Homo sapiens: one gene and its partner. The protein of the gene in region 1 interacts with the protein of each later gene in a biochemical or structural test. Each region holds a gene or a part of one and is shown in the gene's direction. Other genes may lie near its edges.

Region 1 (8,248 bases):
TGTATTTTTAGTACAGATGGGGTTTCGCCATGTTGGTCAGGCCGGTCTCAAACTCCTGATCTCAGGTGATCCACCCACCTCGGCCTCCCAAAGTGTTGGGATTACAGGTGTGAGCTGCCGCATCTGGCCTGTTCAGTGATTTTAGCATATTTATGAGGTTATGTAAGCATCATTACTGTCTAATTCCAGAATTTTTTCACCCTCCCAAAAATCCATGTACCCATTAGCAGTCACTCCCTTTTTACCCCGTGTAGCCCTTGGTAACCACTAATCTACTTTCTGTCTCTATGAATTTTCCTGTTCTGGACATTTCATATAAAATGAATCATACGATAAATATATAACTTTTTTTTTTTTGGAGACAGTCTCTCTCTGTCACCCAGGCTGGAGTGCAGTGGCGTGATCTCAGCTCATTGCAACCTCTGCCTCCTGGGTTCAAGTGATTCTCCTGCCTCAGCCTCCCGAGTAGCTGGGACTATAGGCAGCATGCACCACCACGCATGGCTAATTTTTGTATTTTTAGTAGAGACGGGGTTTCACCATGTTCGCCAGGCTGTTCTTGAACTCCTGACCTCGTGATCCACCCACTTTGGCCTCCCAAAGTCCTGGGATTACAGGCGTGAGCCACTGCCCCCAGCCAAAATATACAACCTTTTGTGTGTAGCTTCTTTTACTTAGCATGTTTTCAAGGTTCATCCATGGTCTAGCATATACAGTATTTCATTCCTTTTTAAAATTAATTGTTGGGTTTAATATACATAACATAGAATTTACCATTTTTAAGTGTGTACAGTTCAGTGGCATTAAGTGCATTCATATCATTATGCAGTCATCACCATCACCTATCTCCAAAAATTGTTTCTTTTGTTGAGACATGTCTCAGTCTGTCACCCAGGCTGGAGTGCTGTAGCTCAATCTCCACTCATGCACCCTCCACCTCCCGGGCTCAAACTGTCCTCCTACCTTAGCCTCCCAAGTAGCTGGGACGACAGGCATGTGCTACCACACCTGGCCAATTTCTAAACTTTTTGTAGAGACAGAGTCTTACTTTGTTGCTCAGGCTGGTCTCGACCTCTTGAGCTCAAGCAATACTCCTGCTTTGACCTCCCAAAGTGCTGGAATTACAGGCCATCATGCCAGACCTAAAACATTTTTCATCTTGTAAAATTGAAATGGTACCCATTAAAGCAGGGGTCCCCAACTCCTGGTCCCCAGCCTGTTAGGAACTGGGCTGCACAGCAGGAGGTAAGTGGAGGGTGAATGAGCATTACCTGCTGAGCTCCACCACTTGTCAGATCAGCAGAGGCATTAGATTCTCATAGGAGCAATAACTATTGTGAACTGTGCATGTGAGGGATCTAGATTGTGCATTCCTTACGAGAATCTAACCTGAGGTGGAACAGTTTCATCCTGAAACCATCCCCCTCTCCACTCCTGTCCATGGAAAAATTGTCTTCCACAAAACCATTGCCTGGTGCCAAAAAGGCTGGAGACTGCTGCTTTAAACAATGACTCCCCATGACTCCCTTTCCCCAGGTCCTGGCAAACATCATTCTACTACTGTTTCTATGATTCTTTAGTACTTCGTAAGTGTAGAATCGTACCTTATTTGTCCTTTCCTGGCTGGCTTATTTCACTTAGAATAATATCTTTAATTTTCATCCATGTTGTAGCATGTGTCAGCATTTCCTCCTTTTTAATGCTGAATAATATTTGATAGTCTGGATATACTACATTTTGTTTATACATTCATCTGTCCATGGACACTTAGATTATTTCCACCTTTTGGCTGTTTATGCTGCTATAAACATAGGTATACTGTGGTAGAATATAGATATATCTGTCCATGGCCCTGCTTTCAGTTGTTTTGGGTATATACCCAGAGGTGGAATTCCTTGATCATGTAGTAATTCTATTTTTAATTTTTTGGGGGAATCTCGCCATACTGTTTTCCATAGTGACTACACTGCGTTATATTCCTACCTGTAGTGCAGAGGGGCTCCAATTTCTCCACATCCTCACATCCTTTTCAACTCTTGTTTTCTTCTGTTTTTTTTTTTTTTTTTTTTTTTTTTGGTTGTTGTTGTTGTTGTTTTGGTGTTTTAAATAATAGCCATCCCAACAGGTGTGAAGTGGTATCTCATTGTGGTTTTTATTTGCATGGTAAAGGATGTTGAGCATTTTTTTAATGTGCTTATTGGTCATTTGTATGTCTTTGGAGAAATCTCTATCCTTTGTTCATTTTTAAATATTGTTGAGTTTTAAGTTTTTTATATATTTTGGATACCAGTCCTTTATCAGATATATGATTTACAAATATTTTTTCCCATTTTTGGGTTATTTCACTTTCTTGATGGTATCCTTTGAAGCACAGTAGTATATTTTTGTGCTTCTATAGTAGTGTATAAAGTAGTATACTACACTACTCATTTGATTCTTTGCATATTTCCTTTTCTCAAACTAACAATTCTTGCTTTTAGTTTTAATCGCCTGGACCTGCCACCATACAAGAGCTATGAGCAACTGAAGGAAAAGCTGTTGTTTGCCATAGAAGAAACAGAAGGATTTGGACAAGAGTAACTTCTGAGAACTTGCACCATGAATGGGCAAGAACTTATTTGCAATGTTTGTCCTTCTCTGCCTGTTGCACATCTTGTAAAATTGGACAATGGCTCTTTAGAGAGTTATCTGAGTGTAAGTAAATTAATGTTCTCATTTAGATTTATCTCCCAGTGATTTCTACTCAGCGTTTCCAGAAATCAGGTCTGCAAATGACTAGTCAGAACCTTGCTTAACATGAGATTTTAACACAACAATGAAATTTGCCTTGTCTTATTCCACTAGTTTATTCCTTTAACAACAATATTTTATGTGTGTCAAAAGTCTCACTTGGGAGTAGTGTTTTTTTCTTTTAGACATTCTGCAGACATGCAGGGAAGTCCTTTGGTAACTGCAATATACAAGATTTTCCTATTAAGCCTCTTGGTAAGAGGCATTTGTTAAAAGTGCAAGCTTACTCCTGCTTCTGGGGATGTGAGCAAAATTCGGGCTTGTGTTCTCCCTCTCATTTTAGTCTGACTTGACTATTGTTTTTCCTTTCTGGCGCATGAATCCATACATCATTCCTGGAAGTGAGGCAAGACTCTTGCATCTCTACAAAGTAGTTTTGTCAATTTGAATTCAGGGAAAAGTTGGTCACAGCCTGCAAATGACTTCATTTGGAAGTCTGATTGTTTCAGTTGCCTGACAAATACTACACTTTACAAACAATGTTAACACTGTGATTCCTTCATTGTTTTAAGAAGTTAACCTAGGGCCGGGCATGGTGGCTCATACCTGTAATCCTAGCACTCTGGGAGGCCGAGGCAGGAGGATCCCTTTAGCCCAGGAGTTAAAGACCAGCCTGGGCAACATAGGGAGACCCTGTCTTTTTTTTGGGCAGCGTGGTGGGGGATAAATAAATAAAAGGAAAAAAAACTTAGCCTAGAATTAGAATTAATTTAATTGAATTCATCTAAAGATGTCTCTGGTGATTTTTATATGTTCCGCTATATAATTGATGCTTTATAGTTTTATCATAATCCAACAACTTCAGTTATATTTAATTATTGTTAAGGAGTTTAAGACTAGAAAGACTAGAGTGCTTTCTAGTCCAAATAGAGGTCAGTGAAACAGCTTTTGACATCAGATTTTCATTTGAGAGGGAGAGCTGTGGTACTGGCTAAAAAGAAAGGAAGATAACATCCAGTAACCACAGGAATATATTCTCTGTGAATTAAAAGTCTTCAAAGTTATCATTTCTCTGACATATGTTGGAGTAGTCATTTCCATTCTTTACATTGTCATGAACTGGATTGATAACCCTCATCTGCAATATTTTCACCCCTAAAATTTTTAACAGGGTTTCCTTTTTTTCTCACGACTATTTAAGTTTAGATTGCTCCATTATTAACTGATTAATGCACTTTGAAGTTCTCTGGAATTAATTATTTTAACTTGGCCTAGCTTCGACTGTCAAGGTGGCTGTTATAAATTTGACTTCATTGGCAGTGGATGAAGCCTAAGCCAGCTGAGTCTCTATCATAGCTGAACCCTGAGGACAGCCTCATAGCTCATGTATCAGGGACTTTTGCCACATTTCAGAGGCATAGCATGAACAAGTAATATTAAGCCAAGAATAAGCAGCAGAACCCTGTTCCATATGGAAAAAAGAAAAACAATTTTTTGTCCCTAATGTTCTTCCTTTTACATCCTGGAACAACAATAAAAACATTTTTTTAAACTTGTCTACTGTAAGATACTGCCATCATAAAGCAGAGACTTACATGAGTGAAAGGGTTGCCTCATCAAGCAGCTCAGTGTAAATGGGGAGGCTAGGCTCTCCCCAGCCCTATGGTTTTTTTATTTCATGTACCCCAGGAAATACTGTGTGGTTTCTAAAAGCCCTGGTTGTTAAAAGTAGGGACTCTGCCTTTTTGTTGGTAGGGAGAAAAAACGCTATTGCTTTGTCTTACAGAGCGAATGTCTGCCAACTACCCGTTCATTATATAAGTCTGAACTTGGTAATATATGGCTAATGAAGATTAAGCCCTCTATAAAGACTTCCTGTTGAGGTGAATTCTCATACTGAAATGTAGTTACCTACAATATTTACTAGAGATTTATGAAATTAAATTAAGAGATAATGTAAGAAAATACATTTTTTTGGTTCTATATAATGCTTCATGATTCATTTAGGGACCTAGAAATATTGTGTGAAAATATATAAATATCACCCAAAAGGCTTTCTGCCCTATATTTTTAAAATACAGAATAGTTATATTTGAAGTAGCCCTGGCCCTAGTTCTATAGGGCTTGGCTATTTAATATTTTTATGGAAGAAGTGTTTAGTTCTGGAAAAGGTAAATGCTTGTATATATTTTTGCAGCCTGGGATCTCCCTACTCCATTTTTTCCTTTAATTTAAGTGGCCACATGTATATGTCTTCCCTGCTGTGTTAGGAAAATGGGGGCTGGATATCCCAAGAATCAGAGGTTATATAAAAATACTGCAAATAGACCGCAGACATAAATATCTACCAAATGCTATCTTAAATTTTGGTCCAAACTGAACATATGGAAATAGATTTATTGTAAGTATTTACTTAGAGCTTTTTCTTAAATCTGAACTAACTTGCTTTTAGAAGTCTTTTTCTTTGTAAGCATTGTAAATGCTAATAAATCCTGTTAATTTTTTTTTTTTTTTTTTTTTTTTTTTACTGCATGTTACATTGAAATAAAAACAAAGTAAAATGAGCAATTGCCTTATTGTTCTGCTCTTTTGCAGGGGGTGGGGGTTGGGGAAGACAGCATTCCACAGCCTGGTCAGGAGGGAAGGACCTCACTTGTTTCATCAAATGGAGTGGTTTAAAACTGATCAAGCAGCTCATAATAATGAATTCCTGCTCTGTCTTTTATTATCTTATGTCAGAGTGCAGCAAAATCTCATTTCATAAGACTTACAATAACTCTATTTAAAATTCAGGTATTGTACTCGGGAGGCTGAGGTGGGAGGATCCCAGGAGTTCAAATCCTGCCTGGGCAACATAGCAAGACCCTGTCTCTTAAAAAAACAAAAAGACATATTCAGGTACTGATTTTTCATCAAGAGATTGACATACCAATGATCAGAAATTTTAGTGAAACTTGACTCAACTATACACAAAGTTCTCATCCTAAATGAACTATTTCAGTCAAGCCCACTCTACCACTTTTTACTTATCTGGTTAATAATCCGAAATGTTACCGGGGTTGACTCACGGAATTAAATTTTTCCTCTATTTTTATATCCTTTCCTGTTGTGGATGTAACTTACCTTTCTAAACTCCTTTAGAGTTAACGACTTCTATTTAGTATTGTTGGTATCTCCAGCCCCCCTCCTTTTTTTGTTTTTCTTTTAGTTATTTACTTTGTTTGTATAATTTGCTTTCATTAACTAAAAATGGAATTGGCAGCACTGGATTGTATATTACTGTATTAAGAGTACCTTTGTTTTCTTGATCTGTTACTTTTAATACTCAGGTAATGCTACAAATATTACAGGGAGTCAAATGCTTTTATAAAGTTCCTTCAGTGGTTGCCTCACTTGCGTTTTCCTACAAGATGTAAGACTGTTTATAATTAAACTTTTTTGGTCCTTCATTTGCATGCTTTTCTATCAGTCTTGGGTAAGGAGGGGTCTCTTTCCTCTCTCCCCGGCCCCACCTTCTGAGACTTATATGTGACCAGGTCACATAGATTTCTGCCTCTCTGCTTTTTTAAGTGGCAAGTTACAGCCCATCTGGATTGTGGTATTGTTCCCAGACCAAATCAAGGGTTGGACTGCTTATTCTCGCAGCCCAATAATGAGGTGCAGATGAACTGAGAAAGGAGGGAGTTTATTTCTGTAACCAGGTATGGGGAGAAAGCCTGGAAATGATCCCAAGACCAACTCAAAACTACAAAGTTTTCCAGAGCTTATTTACATTATAAGCTATATGTCTACATGTGAGTGTACATTCATCTAAAGACATAAGTGATTCACTTTTTTAAATCTATAAATAAGATCTGAGCCCTGAAGACCTTCCTCTGGAGCCTCAGTAAATTTACTTAATCTAAATGGGTCCAGGTGCTGGGGTGATTACCCTTATCTTGTTTCCTGCTAAATCATGGAGGTTTGGGGACTTCCTTCAGACCCCCAGTAAACTTGTTTGTGGAGGCCTTCAGACCCCCTCAATAAGTTCCTTCAGACCCCCAATAAAACTTGTTTAATCCTAAATGGGTTCCTTTGTTATCTTGTCATGCTTCAAGGCCCAGAAAAGGCCTGGGCAAAACCCTTGGTGGCCTTTTGTTACATTCTAGCCTTTGCATAAGGGCCCTCACTCTTTCAGCTTTTAATATTTAACTTAACCACTCAGTGCTGAAACAGTTGTTATGGAGGCCTGCGTTATTGAGATCTGGCCTGCCACGGTACGGGTAGAAAAAAACTAGAAAGAGCTGTTGCAGATGAGACTGGATTTGGTGCCCATGTTGAAGATGAAGATATCTGCAGGGGCCATCAACCAACATAAAGGCCTCCATATGAATTGCTTTTCTGAGACAACTAAAAGACCGGGACCACAGGCATGAGTGCTGAGTAGAGAACCACCAACTAGCTAGCTGTCAAGACTGTTACCAAGACTGTTCTCAACAAGCTGACCTGGTTACCAGCGTCAGTAGAACTTTGTCTTATTAGGAAGCTCAGGTGATTATGCTCTCATTTAAAACAGAACCAGTGGAGAGAGACTAAGGGAAGAGGAATTTTTTAATACGGCTGATCTAACATGGACTAGAGGACAAAAACTGCAGGCCCCTCCCAGGTCCTGAGTAGTTAGTAGACCCTATCCTGTTTATTCTGTCCAATGGAAGCTGCTAGAATGCTCTAGTTTCATTGTGGCTTAGAATAAGGGGAAAAATATGCCCCGCTAAGTGAGGGTCAATGGTCAGTAAGTAATTGTTCTTACTGGCCATTGGCTCTCATCCCAAACCCTACAAATCATCAAACTGGGACTCAGCTGTGACTGACTGGCTGTTCTCTGGACTTTTTAAGTGTCTGTCTCACATTATGTAACTCCAGTACAGGAGCTGCTCTCTCTCCCAGCCCATTTCAGTTGTCAATTCTTCCATGTTCATAGGACTCCTTTGTGATCAGGATATCTGGAGTGAGGAGCCAGGGGAATATTCCTGGTTGGCAAGGAAAAGAGGGCCTTAAACATAAATCCCAGAAGGACACTGTTGATCACTTATGCACAGGGGTCTGTTAATAAGCAAAGAGTGGCTATGGACAAGAGGATTTCCTCAAAGCACCCCACAGGGAAGGACCTTGACAATTTGTAGTCATACTTGAAAGATCACTAAAAACAGCCCTCCTGTTATTTTTCTTCTAATTCAGACCTGTTGTTCTATTTGTCTTCCATATCATAGCAACCAGTACCACACCCATATTCATTTAATACCAAAACAACTGTCAACATTTATCACTATGTGCAGGACACTGGTAGATATGCTATGTGCAGTGTCACTTAGTCTTCCTGTTATTGGTAATGATTATCTCTGTTTTACAAGAAAATAGAGGCTCAAAATGATTGAATCATGTCCACAACTATTAAGTAGAAAGAATACAGGCTGGAATCCAGGATGGTTTGACTCTAAAGCATGCATACTTTACCATTTTTGTTGTACTGCTACTTACC
Region 2 (9,247 bases), on another chromosome or scaffold:
AAACAGTAAGTTACTGCTCTGGTAATTAATGTGGTCTCTTTGCTTTTTATGAGCTGACTTTTCACCGTGGTATTCTTAGTACTAAGTTGAAGATTACCAGAAATACTTGTATTGCTCTCTAGTAATGCATATTAAAAAAACACTGCTCTTTATACGTAAGGGATGTTGAAGCCTTACTTCAGATAAGCATCAAAAGTGTTTCAGAAGAAGAAAACAGGAAATGCAAACAGACAGGTTTTTTGTTGTTTTTGTTGTTTGTTTGTTTTGTTTTGTTTTGTTTAGAACAGTACCTGTATAAATATGGAAGGAAACTTCTGGGAAAATAAGTTGGAAAGAACATTTAGGAAAGGGTCACATCATTTAATCTTGGAATAAATATAACCAATAAATAGCTTATTTTCACCAGTATTTTTTGATATTTTAGTAGCCCCAGTTCTATAAGTGTATTGTTATTTTCAACTCATTGAAGACTTGTAGTATAGTCCATGTGTTTCCTTTTTAAGGGTGTAAATACAGTCTTTTGAATGGCTGATCAAATAAATGTTTCATCATGTCACTTTTTTGGTAAATCAGCACTTTACCGAAGTTTATTTCATGTGTTTGTATGCTTGTGTTTACTAAGAACACTGGTTGATTTAAGGACTTTTTGGGGTGGCCTTATAAGAGCCTTTGTAAAGATAGCTGACGCTTACTGGATTCTGGTTATGAGAGATTATAAGTGGCCGTTCTTAGAGTGTGTTAAAATACAGCCAACAAGATAAATGTGAAAAAGCAAGGTGCAGAATAGTGTGGAAGAGGCCATTTGTGTCAAAAAGAAGGGCATGTGTGTATTTGCCTGTATGGGTAAAAGGTTTCATGAGAAATTGGTAAAATTGATTGCTTTCTGTGTAGAGAGTTGGGTGTCTGGGGTATAGATATTTTTTGAATTTTGTGTCATACAAATGTGATTTACTTAAAGGCATCATTTGGCCTCTTTCCCTTAAGACAGTGTTTGGAAATTTGTCAGATGTTTCTTTTTATTAATTAATATTTATTTTCTTTGTTTTAGATGTTTGTTTTTAAATATGAGTGTGAATTTTAAGTAGTTTTAAATAATATTCCAAAGTTGTTAGGCATGGAATATTGATGTAAAGTACATTTTATAATTAGTTATTTTATGAGTAGGATTACATAAGTAAATTATTAATTGTGAGGATATAAACCCATAATCAATGTTTTATTCATAAGTTTTATTATTTACTATTAGTTATTGCTGCTGTTAATAACTAGCTGCCATTTGTAGAATGGCTAGTTGTTCTTAGTATCATTTGTTTTTACGTTATTGCTAATTCTTAAGCACAGTTCTTTAGATGTCCTATTTCCTAGATGAGAAAATAGAGATTTAGAGAAGTTAAATTATTTGTCTGCAATCACAGAGCCTGGGATTTGGATCTAGGTCTGCTTGTGTTCATATTGTCCCACGCTGTCATGACTTGCTAAGGATAGGCATGCTTTTAATTAATTTAAAAAATCGAGCCTGGTTTGTATTACTGGTTAAAGGATTTAAACACAGTTTAATTTGCTAGTTTAAACTCATTGAAATAAGTGTTACCTATAATTAACTTTAAGATGTACTTGAATTTCTTTCTTTCATGTTTTTTTTTTTTTCTTTTAAGAAGGAATCTCGCTGTCTCGCCCAGACTGGAGTGCAGTGGTGCGATCTCAGCTCACCACAACCTCTGCCTCCCAGGTTCTAGAGATTCTGCCGCCTTAGCCTCCTGAGTAGCTGGGATTACAGGTGCCCGCCACCACGCCCAGCTAATTTTTGTATTTTTAGTAGAGACGACGTTTCACCATGTTGGCCAGGCTGGTCTTGAACTCCTAACTTCAAGTGATCCGCCTGCCTCAACCTCCCAAAGTGCTGGGGTTACAGGCATGAGCCACCACACCCAGCCAGATTTACTTGAATTTCAATATACCAAATATTTTAAAATTTGAAACTTAATGAAATAAAACACCCTTAAATCAGTGCACTCTCTTGTTGGTCTTATGCTATATGGCACCTGTTGGTTTTTCATGTTGTAATTGCACTTTGGTAACATTTTCTTTTCTTTTCTTTTCTTTTCTTTTTTTTTTTTTTTTTTTTTTTTTTTTTTTTTTTTTTTTGAGACGGAGTTTTGCTTTTGTTGCCCAGGCTGGAGTGCAATGGCGCGATCTTGGCTCACCCCAACCTCCGCCTCCTGGATTCAAGCAATTCTCCTGCCTCGGCCTCCTGAGTAGCTGGGATTATAGGCATGCACCACCATGGCTGGCTAATTTTGTATTTTAAGTAGAGGCGAGGTTTCTCCATGTTGGTCAGGCTGGTCTTGAACTCCCGACCTCAGGTGATCCACCCGCCTCGACTTCCCAAATTGCTGGGATTACAGGAGTGAGCTACTGCACCTGGCCAACATTTTCTAGTCTCATAGGGCGTGTTTAAATCTATGGCATAAACAAATTGGTTTCGTGAAAATTACTATATAGTACATTAAGTTTTCCCTCATCATTTAAATAGATTTTTGTGTCTATTTTCCTTTAAAATTTTAATGTACTTGATCTAGCTTGATCTAGATTATTCTGTAATAGAAGTAGTTGTAAATCTCTAAAAGTAAGTCTTTTGATTTCTGTAGACCATGGATTTTTTAACCTTGGCACTACTGACATTTTGGGCAGATAGTTCTTTGTTGAGTGGCTCTCCTGTGCATTGTGGGATGTTTAGCAACATCCCTGACCTCTACCAGTATATGCAGGTAGCACTGCAGAGCCCCAGCGCATGTCCCCACTATCTCTTCTTGCTGGATGCATCAACTAAAAATGTCCCCAGACTGCCATATGTTGAGAACTATGTAGACAAAACTTTTTTTTTTGATACAGAGTCTTGCTCAGTCACCCAGGCTGGAGTGCAGTGGCACGATCTCAGCTCACTGCAACCTCCACCTCCTGGTTGCAAGCCATTCTGCCTCAGCCTCCCGAGTAGCTTGGATTACAGGCGCCTACTACCATGCCCGGTTAATGTTTTTATTTTTAGTAGAGACGGGGGTTTCACCATGTTGGCCAGGCTGGCCTGACAAAACTCTTTAAAAGAGTGTTTATGGCCAGGTGGGGTGGCTTATGCCTGTAATCTAGCATTTTAGGAGGCTGAGACTCGATTGAGGCCAGGAGTTCAAGACCAGCCTGGGCAACATAGTGAGAGTTTGTTACTACTAACATTTAAAAAAAATCAGCCAGGCCTGGTGGTATGTGCCTATAGTGGCAGCTACTCGGGAGGCCGAGGCTGGAGGATGCTTGAGCCCATGAGGTCAAGGCTGCAGTGAATTGTGATCATGTGACCGCACTTTAGCCTGGGCATCAGCGAGACCCTGTCTCATAAATGAAAAAAGAAAATGATTCCTGGCTATTTATTAACTATATAAGAAGAACACAGCCAGGCGTGGTGGCTCACGCCTGTAATCCCAGCACTTTGGGAGGCCTAGGCAGGTGGATCACGAGGTCAGGAGATCGAGACCATCCTGGCCAACATGATGAAACCCCGTCTCTACTAAAAATACAAAAATTAGCCGGGCATGGTGGTGAGTGCCTGTAGTCCCAGCTACTTGGGAGGCTGAGGCAGGAGAATTGCTTGAACCGGGGAGGTGGAGGTTGCAGTGAGCGAGATGGCACCACTGCACTGCAGCCTGGCGACAGAGCGAGACTCCATCTCAAAAAAAAAAAAAAAAAAAGAATACTTTGAGACTTAACTGTATCAGATGTGTAAGATAATTTATCTAAAGAATAAATGGACACAGACAGTAAAGACAAAAAATATATACTGGCTTTGAATGTTTTATTTTTAAAACTTTTAAGTTTGTTTCCCGTTTTTAGTGTTTTTCTTTTAAAATTTCTCGCTTTTGATTTTAATAAAAAGGTAAAATTTTCTACCAAAAATGAATGTAACGAGAATTTGAACAGTTGTTTCTAAGACTAGAGGCAGGCGTGGTGGCTCACATCGGTAATTGCAGCACTTGGGGAGGCTGAGGCAGGAGAATCGTTTGAGTCTGGGAGGTCGAGGCTGCAGTGAGCGGTGATTGTGCCACTGCACTCCAGCCTGGGTGACAGAGCAACACACTGTCTCCAAATAGTAAAAAAGTGGTTTTTAAAGTTTTTATTTTTATTTTATTTTTTCAAAAGTGTGTTTGAAAGTTATGTAAGTTACAGTTTTATGTAATATTTAAATAGTATTTCTTATGGTTTCTGGAATGGGTTGAGCAAGGAAAGCCTATAGATTGGGTTAAAAAAAATCAAAGTCTGTGCAGGTAATATGTTTGGGGTGAATTCCTTGTATACAGTGTTACAAAGACTTTGAGCTCTGTCCATTGGGCGTAGGTTTAGACACATCTGGGCTCCCTAGCTTCTTCCCTTTTTATTTATTTATTTTTGAAACAGAGTCTCACTGTCACCAAAGCTAGAATGCAGTGGCGTGATCACAGTTCACTGCAGCCTTGAACTCCCCAGGCTTAGATGATCCTCCTACCTCAGCCTTCCAAGTAGCAGGGACTAAAGGCGTCTGCCACCATGCCCAGCTAATTTATGTAATTTTTTGTAGAGACGGGGTTTCACCATGTTGCCCAGGCTGGTCTCGAACTCCTGGACTGAAGTGATCCTCCGGCCTTGGCCACCTGAAGTGCTGGGATTACAGACGTGAGCCACCATGCTTGGCCTGTCACCCCTTCTTAAAGACTATACACCTTTTTTTTTTTTTTTTTTTTTAGACGGAGTCTCCCTCTGTCGCCCAGGCTGGAGTGCAATGCGCCATCTCGGCTCACCGCAACCTCCGCCTCCCGGGTTCAAGCAATTCTCCTGTCTCAGCCTCCTGAGTAGCTGGGATTACAGGCATGTGCCAGCATGCATGGCTAATGTTTTTTTTTGTTTTTTTTTGTTTTTGTTTTTGTATTTTTAGTAGAGACGGGTTTTTACCGTATTGGCCAGGCTGGTCTCGAGCTCCTGACCTTGTGATCTGCCGCCTCGGCCTCCCAAAGTGCTGGGATTGCAGGCATGAGCCACTGCACCTGGGTTTTTTTTTTTTTTTTTTTGGGAGACAGAGTCTTGCTCTGTTGTCCAGGCTGGAGTATGGTGGCACGATCTCAACTCACCACAGCCTCTGCCTCCCGGGTTCAAGCGACTCTCGTGCCTCAGCCTCCTGAGTAGCTGGTATTACAGGCGCACCCCACCACGCCCAGCTAATATTTTGTATTGTTAGTAGAGACAGGGTTTTACCATGTTGGCCAGGCTGGTCTCGAACCCCTGACCTCAAGTGATCCAACTGCCTTGGCCTCCCAAAGTGCTGGGATTACAGGCGTGAGCCACCGTGCCCAGCCAAGACTATATACTCTTATTTCCCGTGAATACATTATTGACAGTTATTGAAAATATTGACTATAGCCCCAAAAGGCTTAACTGGTTAGAGATACAGGGCAGACAAAGGATAGATAAAAATGGTGGGGGCAAAGAGTAAATGCTATGGGATTCTAAAGGGTATCTGCATGAGAGAGATTCCTTTTTGTTGTTGTTTTGTTTTGTTTTTGTGACAGAGTCTCGGCTCTATCACCCAGCCTGGAGTGCAGTGGCTCCATCTCAGCTCACTGCAACCTCCGCCTCCCAGGTTCAACCAATACCTCAGCCTCTGGAATGGCTGGGATCCCGGGATTACAGGCATGCGCCACCACGCCCAGCTAATTTTTTTTTTTGAGACGGAGTCTCGCTTTGTCACCCAGGCTGGAGTGCAGTGGCGCGATCTCAGCTCACTGCAACCTCCGCCTCCCAGGTTCAACCAATACCTCAGCCTCTGGAATGGCTGGGATCCCGGGATTACAGGCATGCGCCACCATGCCCAGCTAATTTTCTTTTTTGAGACGGAGTCTCGCTCTGTCACCTAGGCTGGAGTGCAGTGGCGCTATCTCAGCTCACTGCAAGCTCCGCCTCTCAGGTTCATGCCATTCTCCTGCCTCAGCCTCCTGAGTAGCTGGGACTACAGGCGTCCACGACCACTCCCAGCTAATTTTTTGTATTTTTTTTTTAGTAGAGACGGGGTTTCACCGTGTTAGTCAGGATGGTCTCGATCTCCTGACCTCGTGATCTGCCTGCCTTGGCCTCCCAAAGTGCTGGGATTACAGGTGTGAACCACCCTGTCCGGCCACAATACCCAGCTAATTTTTGTAGTTTTAGTAGAGACAGGGTTTCATTGTATTGGCCAGGCTGGTCTTAAACTCGCGGCCTCAGATGATCTGCCTGCCTGGGCCTCCCAAAGTGCTTGGCTTAAATGGTGAGCCACCATGCCTGGCATGCCTGGACTTTTTTTTTTTTTTTTTCCCAGATGGAATCTCACTGTGTCACCCTGGCTGGAGTCCAGTAGCATGATCCAAGCTCACTGCAGCCACCACCTCCCAGGTCAAGCGGTTCTCCTGCCTCAGCCTACCAAGTAGCTGGGATTACAGGCGCGCCCCACCGCCCAGCCAATTTTTTATATTGTTAGTAGAGACAGGGTTTTATGATGTTGGCCAGGCTGGTCTCCCAAAGTGATAAGATTACAAGTGTGAGCCACAATGCCCAGCCAAGACTATATACTCTTATTTCCCAGTGAATACATTATTAACAGTTACCGAACATGTTGACCACAGCCCCAAAAGGCTTAATTGGTTGGAGATACAGGACAAAGGATAGATAAAAATGGGAGGGGCAAAGTGTAAATGCTATGGGATTCTGAGGGTATTTGAATGAGGGAGGTTCTTTTTTGTTTTTGTTTTGTTTTGAGTCAGAGTCTCTGTCACCCAGCCTGGAGTGCAGTGGCTTTATCTCGGCTCACTGCAGCCTCCGCCTCCTGGCTTCAAGTGATTCTCAGGCCTCAGCCTCCAGAATGGCTGGAATTACAGGCATGCGCCACCACACCCGGCTAATTTTTTTTGTATTTTTAGTAGAGACTGGATTTCACCATGTTGACCAGGCTGGTCTCACACTCCTGACCTCAGGTGATCTGGCTGTCTTGGCCTCCCAAAGTGCTGGGCTTACATGTGTGAGCCACCCCACCTGGAGTTTTTTTGTTTTGTTTTGTTTGAGATGGAATCTCACTCTCTCACCCAGGCTGGAGTGCGGTGACATGATCTTGGCTCACTGCAGCTTCTGCTTCCCAGGTCAGGCAGTTCTCCTGCTTGACCCAGTAGCTGGGATTACAGGCGCATGCCACCATACCCAGCTAATTTTCCTATTTTTAGTAGAGATGGGGTTTCTAGCCAGGCTGGTCTCGAACTTCAGACCTCAGGTGATCCGCCTGCCTTGGCTTCTCAAAGTGCTGGGATTACAGGCATGAGCCGTCGTGCCTGGCCTGTATGACTGTATGAGGGAGGTTCTTGAGCTAGGTGCCTTTTTTTTTTTTTTGAGATGGGGTCTCACTCTGTCGCCCAGGGGCACAATCATAGCTCATTGCAGCCTTGACCTCCTGGGTTCTAGCAGGCCTTCCACCTCAGCCTCCCGAGTAGCTGGGACTACAGGTGTGTGCCACCACACCTGGCTAATTTTTATTTTTTGTAGAGATGGGGTCTCATTGTGTTGCCCAGGTTGGTCTTGAACTCCTGGCTTCAAGCAGTCCTCCTGCCTCAGCCTCCCAAAGTGCTGGGATTATAGGCATGAGCCACCTCACCCAGCCTTCTTGAGCTGAGTTCTAGAGGAAAGTTAAGACTGACCTCAAATTTCAGGAGACAGTCCCAAAGGAATTCTGGTAATATTGCAATTTTTTTTTTCTGAGACAGTTTTGCTCTTGTTGCCCAGGCTGGAGTGCAGTGGCACAATCTCAGCTCATTGCAACCTCTGCCTCCCGGGTTCAAGCGATTCTCCTGCCTCAGTCTCCCGAGAAGCTGGGATTACAGGCATGCACCACCACGCTCAGCTAATTTTGTATTTTTAGTAGAGACCGGGTTTCTCCATGGTGGTCAGTCAGGCTGGTCTCGAACTCCGGGACTCAGGTGATCTGCCAGCCTTGGCCTCCCGAAGTGCTGGGATTGCAGGCGTGAGCCACCGCGCCTGGCCGAGATTCTTAAGTAAATGAACTTTTCTTTAGGCACATGAATTGGAACTATGGAACAAAGAGATTATTGATACAATTATTCAAGAAGCACATTTGCATATTTAGAACAGAAAGGTTGCACAGCTCTTACATACTCAAACATAGTTTTAGAGTTAGATCATGATCTTAACTTTCTTCATGGTTACCTTTTGGGGAGGAAAACCACCCTTTTTCATATTAAAGTAAAATGTGTACGTAATAAAGTGTGACTGGCATCCAAATCAAGAAACAGACCCTTCCCAGTACCATGGGAATCTGCCTGCCTTTCTAGTTACTTTCCTGACTTCTAATAACCGATTAGTTTTGAGTATGTTTGAGTAAAAGAATAGATGTGAGTATATATTATGTATTTTAAGTTTGAAAGTTTTCAAAAGATGCTTTTCAAAATCTTTCTTAAGAAAAATATAGTGTCTTAGAAAATGTGCCAAAATGTATTGAATTTCAGAGCTGAAACAGATCTAGGCCAAACTTCTCATCTATAAAATCAGGAAATTGAGGCCCAAGGAGGTTGATTGTTTCTCAGAGAAACAGAGCTGGTTAATGGTGAACCCAGGCTTTTTGCATACCAGTTTAGTCATAATAAGTAGTTGGTTTTTGGGAATATCCTTTTCATAAATGATAGTATAAAAGCTGACTGCTAATACAACTTTACAGAAGGGGATAACAATGCAGTATTATTTGTGTCTTTTTTTTTTTTTTTCCTCTTAGTATGAGAACTTGAACTTGCCAAGGAGGTAGAGATTTTTTAACTCCTGAAGCATAATTTAGTTAAGTTAGCTTAGTAATTAAGGGCGTGGGCTTTAGAATTAGATTTGCTTTGAGTCCTGGCTTTTCTTCTTAAAACCTGAAGTACTGGCTCTGTATCTCGATTTTTTTAATCTGTAAAAATGTGGGAAGATTAGGAGAGTCCTTGCGGTGCTTAGAACAACCTTGGGACATAATTAAACATTCAGTAAACGGATAGCTGTTAGATGTCAGAATTAGCTATGTTTTCATATTCTGTCGTGCTTATTATTCTTGGATTATAAAGGTATTGTTCAATGGTTTAGTGATTATTGGATGTAAATATGCCTCAAGAAAAGCTCAAGATGAGGGTTAAGGTACTTCTAATAGTGTTTCTTTGTCACCTGTGTGCCA

Evidence for each region. The genes of interacting proteins can lie anywhere in the genome.
Region 2: the proteins of ITCH (region 1) and UBE2K form a complex in vitro, tested with the Homo sapiens proteins (2 studies listed by BioGRID).

Annotation. Positions count from the first base shown.
Region 1 is NC_000020.11:34,505,215-34,513,462, forward strand, and holds the end of ITCH (E3 ubiquitin-protein ligase Itchy homolog), read left to right. Parts: intron 1-2,480; coding exon 2,481-2,580; 3' UTR 2,581-6,559; downstream 6,560-8,248. UniProt on the Homo sapiens protein: Acts as an Acts as an E3 ubiquitin-protein ligase which accepts ubiquitin from an E2 ubiquitin-conjugating enzyme in the form of a thioester and then directly transfers the ubiquitin to targeted substrates.
Region 2 is NC_000004.12:39,700,127-39,709,373, forward strand, and holds part of UBE2K (ubiquitin-conjugating enzyme E2 K), read left to right. Parts: intron 1-9,247. UniProt on the Homo sapiens protein: Accepts ubiquitin from the E1 complex and catalyzes its covalent attachment to other proteins. In vitro, in the presence or in the absence of BRCA1-BARD1 E3 ubiquitin-protein ligase complex, catalyzes the synthesis of 'Lys-48'-linked polyubiquitin chains.